Regions from separate parts of the Homo sapiens genome. Here regions 1, 3 and 4 are each linked to region 2. The links come from fine-mapping of genetic effects on gene expression. A gene starts in region 2. Each other region holds a variant in brackets. All regions are shown on one strand. Distances are between the middles of the regions.

What was found. PIP is the estimated chance that this variant, and not a neighbour inherited with it, causes the effect.
Region 1: its variant is fine-mapped to the expression of GNAQ in whole blood (TOPMed, PIP above 0.99).
Region 3: its variant is fine-mapped to the expression of GNAQ in whole blood (TOPMed, PIP 0.93).
Region 4: its variant is fine-mapped to the expression of GNAQ in skeletal muscle (GTEx, PIP 0.99).

What each region holds. Positions count from the first base shown.
Region 1 is chr9:78,210,129-78,212,878 of GRCh38, reverse strand. No RefSeq gene overlaps it. Among named protein-coding and RNA genes, the nearest start is that of CEP78, 25 kb to the left of the region's middle. RefSeq lists an enhancer at 1,563-1,882. The variant T/G (reference allele first, on the strand shown) is at 1,614.
Region 2 is chr9:78,030,531-78,033,030 of GRCh38, reverse strand. It overlaps GNAQ (G protein subunit alpha q), which reads left to right and starts at 1,220. Exons shown (of 7, transcript NM_002072.5): 1 at 1,220-1,931. The coding sequence starts at 1,796. RefSeq lists an enhancer at 1,137-2,031.
Region 3 is chr9:78,100,329-78,103,078 of GRCh38, reverse strand. No RefSeq gene overlaps it. Among named protein-coding and RNA genes, the nearest start is that of GNAQ, 70 kb to the right of the region's middle. The variant C/T (reference allele first, on the strand shown) is at 1,692.
Region 4 is chr9:78,130,406-78,133,155 of GRCh38, reverse strand. No RefSeq gene overlaps it. Among named protein-coding and RNA genes, the nearest start is that of GNAQ, 100 kb to the right of the region's middle. The variant G/A (reference allele first, on the strand shown) is at 1,288.

The sequences.
Region 1 (2,750 bases), 180 kb before region 2:
CCTACTTAAGTGACATGCTTTTTCTTTAGTGCCTCCCAGTTACCTCTGTAAAAGGATTGTTTGGAAATAGGGTCTGCCTGAATGAAGCCTAGAGGCTGTAAACAAAATTCCTCTTCATCAAAGATGCAAGTAAACAATTCTGGGCCAAACTGAACCACAGAGAGGTCATCTTAAATGCCCATCAAGCCATAAAAGGGTAGCCAGGGGATTGAAATTTTACACCTGTGTAAGGCAGGGAAGTAATACTGAAGTTAAAATAAAATAGCAGGCTCATACACTTAAAGATGGTTATTAAGCAGAGGTTGTCACCTTATCTCTGTGAGAACTAGTCTTGCAGATGCCTTGAGAAGAAGGAGTCCCAGCGTGGGACTCTGAGGGCCTTGGTGTGCTGACCCTGTGGCAGGGCCATTGCCCACTACACACTAGCTTTGGGTGGGAGGTGTAGAAGTTGCAGTGAAGTCCCACACTCATGGAGCAGCTGTAGTGCTGAGAAAGTGCATTAGAAGGCATAGGTTGTGTTCAGAGATAAGGCACCCATGATACCCCTCTGAAGTCCCTTTAAGGTGCTCATCCTGCCACCTGTAAAGCATCTAAGGCACCCTGGCCCCAGGTCGGGGGATGGAACCACAGTAAGGCTGTGGTATTACTGTCCCTTGGAGCTGAAATAAGTGCCGGGTAAGATGGCACTGGGACTTGGTTGAGTCACTAAGGTAGAAGTCCCAAGGCCCTCCATTAAATTTCTCCCACCTGAAAGTCTGGGCCTCATGAAGGTAAAAACTGCTACACAGGGAAGGTGTCTCTGAAGCTGCTGGAGCTCCCTGTTGGGCTGGACCAGAGCCCTTCCGTAACCTCGGCACTCTTGCAAGAGAAGGCAACCCCACTGTATTATACTCTCATGGGCTGGAATAGGCCGGAGTCCCAGGCTTTAGCGCTTTGGGTTTATAGGGATAACCACTTCTCCAGAAGTACCATGGTTAATTTATTTCAATGACTCTATTGGCTAGCCTCCTACTGGCTCTCAACCTAGCCTCATGGACCTCTTTAATTCATAAAGGTAGGCTGGCATGGGGAGAGTATTGCTCCATTTTCCTTTGGAGATGGAAGTCTTAGTATATCTTAATTACCAGACAATGGAGTCTTCATTCCTTCTTTAGATTTGCCTAACCAAGAAAACCTCAGAGTAACATTCCAAGAGCAAAGATGAACATCTATCCTGAAAACAAATAAACAAACAAGCAAAAAAGCTGCTTTCGACTACAAAGCTACAGCAGGACACTTTCTCTGCAGTGAAATGACTGAGTCAAAGGATACGGGCATTTGAAAAGCCCTCTTTTGTGTAGCCACTATGTGGAATAAAGACAACTCATGTGATATAACTGTAAAACAATTTCTTATTTCCCAGTGCCCCTTTAACTGTTTCGTTCTTCCTCTCTCCTGATTGAAAACTCCTATAGTCCCACGCGATGATCAAAATTTTAATCTTCGTTCAAAGGTCAATCATCCTGCCTTTCCCACTGTGGTACTGTTTCAGGACAAGGTCGACTTCTCCATCCTACCCATAGCACTTTCCCTCCATCTGCCCATCAAGGCTATGATTAGGCCACCTGTAAAAG[T/G]CTGTCTTGGCTTCCTCAGGCTGGAACTGCAAGGTGGGAAAGGAAGTGAAAAGGGCGAGAAAGTTCTTATTTGATTGATGTTGTCAGTGGATGGCTTCTGCTTGCTGGAGCGTGAAGCTGTTTTTTTCTCTTATGTGCATTTTTTGTGGGTTATCATGAAAGCTGCCATTGTTGGGGGATGCTTCTCTTTCCGTTTCTTTGATGTGGGAAATGATGTCTCTTCTAGCTGGTCACTGGCAGCTCCTCTTGCGACTTCTCACCATCCAGTGACCCACAGCTAGCTTCCTTCTTCTGATGTTCTCTTAGTCTTCAGATAGCCCTCAGAAAGATTCTTGATGCTCCCAGACTGCCTGCCTCTCAAGAGTGGTACAAACCTCTTCCTCAGGAAATACACTTTCTTTGGCCACAGCCACCTCTCCTAGATCAGCTTCTAAATACTTCTATCTCACTGTGTTTACATTTCTTAGTGGGAATCAGACACAAGTATAGTCCCCTAAATCAAGCTTGTCCAACCTGTGGCCCATGGGCTGCATGCAGCCCAGGATAGCTTTGAATGCAGCTCAACACAAATTCATAAACTTTTTAAAACATTATGACATTTGCTTGCAAATTTTTTTTAAAGCTAATCAGCTGCTGTTAGTATATTTTTATGTATGGCCCAAGACAATTCTTTCAATTGTCTTTCAATTCTTTCTTTTGGTCCAGGGAAGCCAAAAGATTGGACACTGCTGCCTTAAACTGAATGTAGCACATCTTGAATTCTCTATGTGGGCTCCTTAAAACCGTTAAGTGGGAAACATCTTCTATTCCTCACCCTTGTTGAGGTATCTAGCACTCCAACATCTATCTCCAAAATCCTCCTCCCAGTTTCACCTTCAACCTCCATGTACTTCATCCTCTTTGTATTTTTAATGTGTGTGAGGGATGAGTTCTGTCATTGGTGTTCAGATACTTATTTTGAAAATTTGTATTTTGTTTTAGCAACTCACTTTGAAGTGCAATATATATTGTATCTTGATTCCTCAGTCAAAATCTTCAAGGAACAGCCAATTGCATAAGAAAGATTTGCTCTTGTTCTCACTCATAGGTGGGAATTGAACAATGAGAACACATGGACCCAGGAAGGGGAACATCACA
Region 2 (2,500 bases):
TGCTGGGGCCTCCTTAGTTTCTCTTCTATTTCATTCTTTCCTTTCCTTTTATTCCACATTATTTTACATTTTCCCATAAGTCATCCATAATTCAATCTCAGTCTAGAAGAGTAAATTCGATTACTCGGCGGCTAAACATCGTGTGCCTTCTCAGAAACAAGAGAACTTGTAAAACAAAAACAAAAACAACTTAAAAAAACAAAAACAACCAACAACCACCAAAAAAACAAAGGCATGAAAAGTTGGAACCTATCGGGAGGCTCTTGGAAACTTGGGCAGCTTCCTTTCTCTGTTCAGGATTTAGATTTCTATCTCACGTTACTTTGCGAACAGCTTCGCCTGTGAATCTCCCCCTACACCTCTGGGCACCGGTGCCAATTCCTTCCCTTCCCTTCCCCAGTAGCCCCACACAGTATAGAGGAGCTTATTTTCTAAGACTGCACCGGTGTCAGAGGTGACGTGAGAGTTTCTAACCGAATGGCGTTTTAGAAATAGGAACGGGAAACACAGAAACGGCTGAGGAGCGACCCCGTGGAGCAGACAGGCACAGCCCGGGAGCGGCGGACGCCAGCGCCGGCGCCGCAGGGAGCGCGTGCGGGGCTCCGCGGGGCCGCCTCCCGCGACTTCAGCAGGGGCCGCGGCCGCGCTCCCGGGCCGGTGGGCTGAGGCAGGCAGAGGCCGCCATATTCCTGTCTCACCACGCCCGGCCGGACGGCAGCCGCAGGTCGGCTGCGGCCCTGGCACGCAACGGCGGCCGCCGGCTCGGGCTGCGCGTCGGCGGCCGGGTCTGGCCCCGACTTCGGCCGGGGGCGGCCGTGACTGCTGCGCCCGCGGACTCTGCCGAGGGTGCGGGAGCAGTAGGCGTCCGCAGAGCCCGCGGGGGCCGGCCCAGCCCGGGAGCCGCGCGGGCGAGGCGAGAGCCGCACTGGGAGGCGCGCCGCGGCGGCCGCGAGCCCAGGAAAGCCTTCCAGGAGGGGCCGGGCGGCACCGCCTCCCGGCTCCCTCCTCCCGCGCCCATCCCCTCCGCCTCTTCCTCCTCCTCCTTTCGCCGCCGCCTCCTCCCTCCCGGATCTGTGCTCCAGTTCAGAGAAAGAAGAAAATGTGTGTGTGTGGCGAGGGGGAGGGCTCGCACTGAGCAGCCGCTCCGCGCCTGGCAATCGGGGCAGGGGGTGGGCGTCTGGCGGGGGCGGGGGCGGAGGCGGAGGCGGAGGAGCGCGCGGTTGCCGGGCGGGACGGGAACCGGGTCTGCGCGCGAGCCGGGCGGTGGGCGCGGACAGGGCCGAGGGCGCCCGGGAGCCGTGTCAGGCGGCGGCGAGGAGCGGGCGCGCCGGGCGCGGGGAGCCGTCGGCGGCCGCTCGCTGCGGGGACACCCCGGTGAATGAGCTCTCGCCGCCAGGCGCACGGCGTAGGGGAGCCTCGCAGGCGGCGGCGGCGGCGGCGGCTCGGGGGGCGAGGCGGGCCGCCTGTTCCCGGGGAAGGAGGCGCGGGCGTCTGAGCGAGGCCGGGCGCGGCGGCCTTCTCTCACGCGCCCCCCGAGCCAGCGCCCGCCTCCCGCGCCCGCCTCTCTTCTCCCGTCGGCCCAGACTATCCGCTCCCACCGCGCCCCCGGCCCACCTGGTGGCCCCGGCCCTGGCCGCCGCCCCCGCGGCGGTTCCCGGAGCTCGTCCCGGACGCGCGCCCGGGCGGCGGGGGCTCGGCGGCCACCGCTGCCTCGGGGGAGCGAGGGCGGGAGGGTGTGTGTGCGCGCTGTGAGCAGGGGGTGCCGGCGGGGCTGCAGCGGAGGCACTTTGGAAGAATGACTCTGGAGTCCATCATGGCGTGCTGCCTGAGCGAGGAGGCCAAGGAAGCCCGGCGGATCAACGACGAGATCGAGCGGCAGCTCCGCAGGGACAAGCGGGACGCCCGCCGGGAGCTCAAGCTGCTGCTGCTCGGTGAGTACCGTCCGGGGCCCCGCCGGGCCTCTGCGCCCCCAGCCCACCATCCTTGGCCCTGCGGGGCAGCTGCCTTCGGCGCCCCCGCCCCCCGGCGCCCGCGGTTCGCCCCTACCCTCCCGGGCGCGCCCCCGGCCACTGCCTTCACCCGCGCGGGCGCGCGGGCGCGTTACACACAGACACACACACACACACACACACACACACACACAGCGACACACACACGCAGCACAGGGGTCGGGGCTGCCCTGCCCGGTGCCTTGGCTTGTTCCTTTTCGTGTCCCTGAGGGCTGTACCTTATCTGCTGTGCATCTGCTAAATGGCAGATCACTCCGACCAGAGGCGCGGGGGTGGAAAGGTGGGCAGAGGGGTTGAACTTCCAGTGTCGTGGCCGCGGCACCCCATGGGGTGGTGGCGTGGGGAGCCGTGTGTGTGGCCCAGCGGGTGGCGAGCGGAGCCGGGGCACGTTGGGGGATGGCCTGCGGTGGAGTGGCCGGTGTGCATCCATTATCAGTGCCCTATGGGGTCAGGAGGGAATGGGGGAACGGTGGGCAGACTCGCAGCTGGAT
Region 3 (2,750 bases), 70 kb before region 2:
TTAGTTATATATTGACTAAAATGTGATTGGTGCCCCCTGAAGTTATGCAGTGTGATGGACCTGAACAAGAACAAAGTGATTAGAAATGGGTCCCATTGATGTTCAAAATTTTGTTTAGCTGATTGCATATACATATAAACTAAACATGCTATTTGTAGCTTTAGTGCATCTGATTGGTTGTTGACAACAGTGTTTACATCCTGAGAGAGCAGAAGAATAAACTGTTGCGTAGATTGCTGTCAAGTCTGAGTTATTCTAGCAGCAGAGTTATTTATTGACTATAAAAAAAATCTTGCTATTTCCATCTGGCTGTCTGCTTGATGAAACATATTTCCAGATAAAATGTAAGCAGAGGAAAATCCCTTTTGTTCCACCTAAAAAACATCATTGGCTTCTAGAACATGAATACTATGCTCACGAGTAAACCTGCTCCAAGGGATACTTCTGAAGATGGTTATTTAATAGCTTTAGCTTTAGAAGAACAATTAGGGTGGCCATTAGTTTTCAATATTTCAAGCACAAATCTTTTAAATAGCATCAATCTCAAAGCAATGTAGAAACTACCCATTTTCTTGAGCTTTTGTCTCAATCAATGCTGTTTAAAATAGTTAAAAAAATAAATTTCATTGAACATGAATTAAGTCTTAAATCAAATGATTTGCAGGATTTGAAGGACTTTTATCCATTTAATAACTTGCTAAGATGAGACTATGATTTACTTGGTAAAAAAAATTATAGCCCATGAATCACTGGGTTACCACTCATTAATTATTATTGACTGTGTTAGGATAGTATTTTACAGAAGAAAAATATCATGACTTTCACAGTAAAGTAAGCATTACAATAAGAATGACAATTTGTTCATGAAAACTAGTAGCAGAATTGAAAAGGGCCTCTGGGGCAATTGAGTTTCTCCCCAAATTTGTTGACTGAATAGCTGCCATTATTCTTCAGGGCTTTCTCAACAGGTGGCTGTCAGATCCAGGTCTGCCTGCTATTGGTAACAGCATTTCTTCAACATCAGCCAGCATCAGGCCCCATTATCTTGAACTCTTTATAAGCTTTCTTTCCTTCAGCTTCAAAATTTCTTGCGTTAGTTCATAGTCTTTCTTGCTTTTATAGGAAATTCCAGATCTCTCCTTTTCTAAATCAAATTTGATCTGTTAATAACATATAGCATGTACCTATTTAGAATGTCATCTTCCCCTTGCAGACTTTCAGTAAATATTTTATTGTCAAGGTTTGCCCACATTTACTCCTATCCAAATCTGATTAATCGACTTGCTGAATGGTATTCACTATGAAAACTTGGTCCTCAATGTTGAGTCTTTAAAACAAATATATTTGTCTAGTTATTTGTCCATCGATTCACCCCTGCATTTCCTCACACACACTCAGAAATTGGCACACAAACTGCATATGCATAGCTTCTAGGGGCTTGGAGAAAGCATCAGTTAGAGCCTGCTCCCCAGAGCTGCCTTATGTTGTGATGTAGATGCACATCAAGTTTAGAATCAAGAATGTTAGAGTGAAAGTAACCAATGAAAAACTGAGGTCCAGAACTGTTACTGTGATGTGCCTGAGCCACGGCCACATTGAGTGAAACATGATGCACCTCACCTTCTAGGTTAGTGCTTTGTCTTTCTGCCCCCCTTGTTTTCCTGTGTGAATTTGATCTTGAAAATTAGCCA[C/T]GTGTGAAGCAAGCCTAAATCAACACTCCTCTGTAAAATAGACAAGGTGAATTCAAGATTACTGTGACTCAGCTCTTAAATTCTGTCATTTAACAATCAACATTTCTGTGAAGTAAATAATTACTCCTTAATTCATATTCTTTTTTTTTTTTTTTTTTTTTTTTGAGAGGGAGTCTCGCTCTGTTGCCAGGCTGGAGTGAAGTGATGCGATCTCAGCTCACTGCAACCTCCACTTCAGGCGATTCTCCTGCCTCAGCCTCCCGAGTAGCTGGGCACTACAGGCGCGTTCCACCTCACTCAGCTAATTTTTGTATTTTTCTAGAGACGGGGTTTCACTATGTTGGCCAGGATGGTCTAGATCTCCTGACCTTGTGATCCACCCGCCTTGGCCTCCCAAAGTGCTGGGATTACAGTCATGAGCCATATATTCTTTTTTAAAAAATAGAATTTTAGTTTAGAATATCTTTCAATGTACTTAATTTTTGCAAAGATAGTACAGAGTTCTCATACACCCCACACCCAATTTCTCCTAACATTTTTTCCTGTATATTTGTCACAATTAATAAACCAATATTGATATATTATTATTAATTTTATTTTCTTTTGTAACATTATAGTTTGGTTTTACATTAAAGGAGATGTGCTATCATTTTTTGAAGGGAGTATGTAATCTTATCTGATATATTACATGAAAATTATCAGCAAGTCATAATTATTTAACGTTATTCTTCATATTTCTGACCTCGTGTCCTTTTTTCCAATGTACAAAGCTTTCATCTATTTGTTAATCAAATACTTATATTGTGTTTACTGTGTGTCAGACACTGTTCTAGGTCCTCTGTAAACAGTAAGCATTTAATCCTCATAACATACCTACATATTATTATCATCCTCAATTTGGAGATGGGAAATTGATGCTCAGAGAATTTAAGTAACTTGCTCAAAGTCACACAGTGCAATCTAGCTCCAGAGTCATGTTCTTCGTCTCACATGTGCTCCTATGCTTCTCTAGGGGACAGAATCCAGCCTTACCTTGTTTATTTCTATAACCCTTCGCCA
Region 4 (2,750 bases), 100 kb before region 2:
AGAAGTGGCACTTTGGTTTCCTTTATTTTCACATTCTTTAAGACACGAATATTTATTGCAACCCCTTCCAAAACACACAAAATGTACATCTACATACACACACATTGACCAACACCTAGATCTCTTCACATTTAGTAAAGCTTAACCTATTCAGTGGTCATTAAAGATTTCAGAGCCAAAGATATGAATGATTAATGACTGGCCAAGAGGGGATATTCAACTGAAACGTTAAAAGGCCCTACTTTGTATTCTAAAAGGTATTGAATTTTGCCCTGAGAAAAATGAAAGTGAAAGTGCTAACTGAAGAAGTCAAATGGTTTCCTGGATGGAAAGATAACTTCCTATCCTGTCTTCTATATCACTGTGTAGGTTCTTAGAGGCCAAATGAGATGGTACATTGACAAACGTTGAGACTGACCTGGTCAAAAGTGACTTAACAGATTTTTCAAACATCATACACACCTAAGCCCGAATAAGGGAAGCCTGCCCACTACTATTTGCTGGAAATTCTTGTATAAATATTTCAGTGTGGCTTTTATTCTTTGATGCTTCTAAGGGTTTTTCTGGCACTTGAGGAGTTACATACCCATTCATCTGTCAAAATTGAAAGAGGAATGTTATTCAAGAGAGTGTTCACATGTCTGAATAAATGCAGCAAAATAAGACAAGTGAAAAATGGCTCAGTCCTAAGTGTCCTAAGCATTCTGGAAAGCGCATGTACATTTTAAAACTGATTGCTTTTTTAATTTTCTGTGTATCATGTTCATGGCTTTTAAAAAAAATTTACTGATTTTCTTGATGAAGAGTTTAGCAAATGCAGAAATTGAATCTTACTTTCCAAATGTTTTGATTGCTTCTAATTGCCTTTAGTTTTTTTATGTGTGTTAGTTTAATACCACAGAAAGCTTTAGAATCATTAGCTCTAGAAACATAAGCCTGCCACTTAATCACACAATGAGTGAATCACTGGCATCCAGGCTAGCCAGAAAGCCAGATCTGGAGCTGTCTGTTCTAAGCCTCAACTGGGAGATTCATCTGTCTTAGGCTGCTCAAATCACTTCTTGTCTAGTGGAAATTTTCAGAATGCCCTCACAGCTATAAATTTCCAACATGGTATAGAAATTCATTGGCCCACCACAACTGACTATTCTAGGGAGTGGAAGAAGCTTTTAGTTATATTCATTTTCTGAAACAAAAAGAACTCTTAACGGCCTCTTGTCTATCTGTCTCCTCTCCTTTGCTACCCTACCCAACAGCAGCAATGGTATAATGCGAAGATAGCCCCCA[G/A]AATTCCATGTACCAAAGGTTATGAATTGGTCTTGTATTAAAAGCACAAACCTCAAAATTAGACCTGGATTCAAATCCAGCCTCCCCACTTTTAGTTGTGGGCCCTAGGAAAAGTTATTTACTCTCTCTTAGCCTCAGTTTTTTCATCTACGTGATGGAAGAAATAATCTCTACTTCAAGTAGTTGTTATAAGAATCGGAGAAGATAATACATAAAAAACAGACAGCTCCTGGCAGGGACTAAGTGCTTTTTTTTTTTTTTTCTTTTGAGACAGGATCTCGTTCTGTTGCCCAGGCTTGAGTTCAGTGGCATGATCATGGCTCACTGCAGCCTCGACCTCCTGAGCTCAAGCCATCCTCCCACTTCAGCCTCCCTAGTAGCTAGGACTACAGGCACGCATTACCACGCCCATATAATTTTTGTATTTTTTGTAAAGACGGGGTTTCTCCACGTTGCCCAGGCTCATCTTGAACTCCTGGGCTCAAGCAATCTGCCCGCCTCAGCCTCCCAAAGTCCTGGGATTACAGGCACGAACCACTGCGCCTAGCCATAAATCCTTATTTAATGGGAGCTGTTAATGTTGTTGATGTTGTTGCTATTGTTGTTGCTAAGTTCTATCTGTGAATTATTCTACATTCCCAATAATCAGTGGAAGTCTTTGAATCTTATCAGTGGAAAGGAGTTTAAAAATCTTATCCCCCAATCCACTTAATTTACAGATCAAGAAACTCATGTTTCTGTAAAATATTCAAGAGGCCACACACTTGTCCAAGGTCACACAGAATGACCTGAAGGATGGCAAAGTCTCTTGATTTCCAGACCACAGTTTATTCTGCATGCAGTGCTCATGTACAATACTTTGATTGTTCTTTGGTACATGCAGGATTATTTCTCCTGCTTTCATATTTTTCTGATCACTTACAGTTTTAGTTCCAGCTTGCTATTATGTGGAATCTTAGATCAATATATGCATCTGAAAAAATGTGAAAATAGTGCAAATTAATTAGAAGCCAGAAAACCTAATCAGAAGAGAAACATTTTGAAAAAAGTGCATAAACAGTGCAAAATAATTTAGAATACCTATCCAAAGAACTGTTGTAGGAGAATAACGACTTTGTTATGAATAATGATAAACAGTTTTCTTTTTGATTTTCTGAAGAAATATTGCCAGGAAAAATGGTGTTAGATGCAAAGTCTAATATATGTTCTCCATATATATATCTTTGTATATATTACCAAAAAAAAACTACATTTAAAGTTTTGTTTTTTCTTCTAAATGTTTCACCTAAACAAGAATGAAAGTTTTGGAGAGAGGAAGGAAGAGAAAGAGACCTAATGTTATTTTTCTCCTGCTACAGGAGGGAATTTACCAAGAAATAGAAAATAGATGCCTTATTGTTGGATTGTGGCTAAGCAGTTCTCATTGCTGGAAGGACTTCCACTGAAGCCCAAAGCAGAAGAGG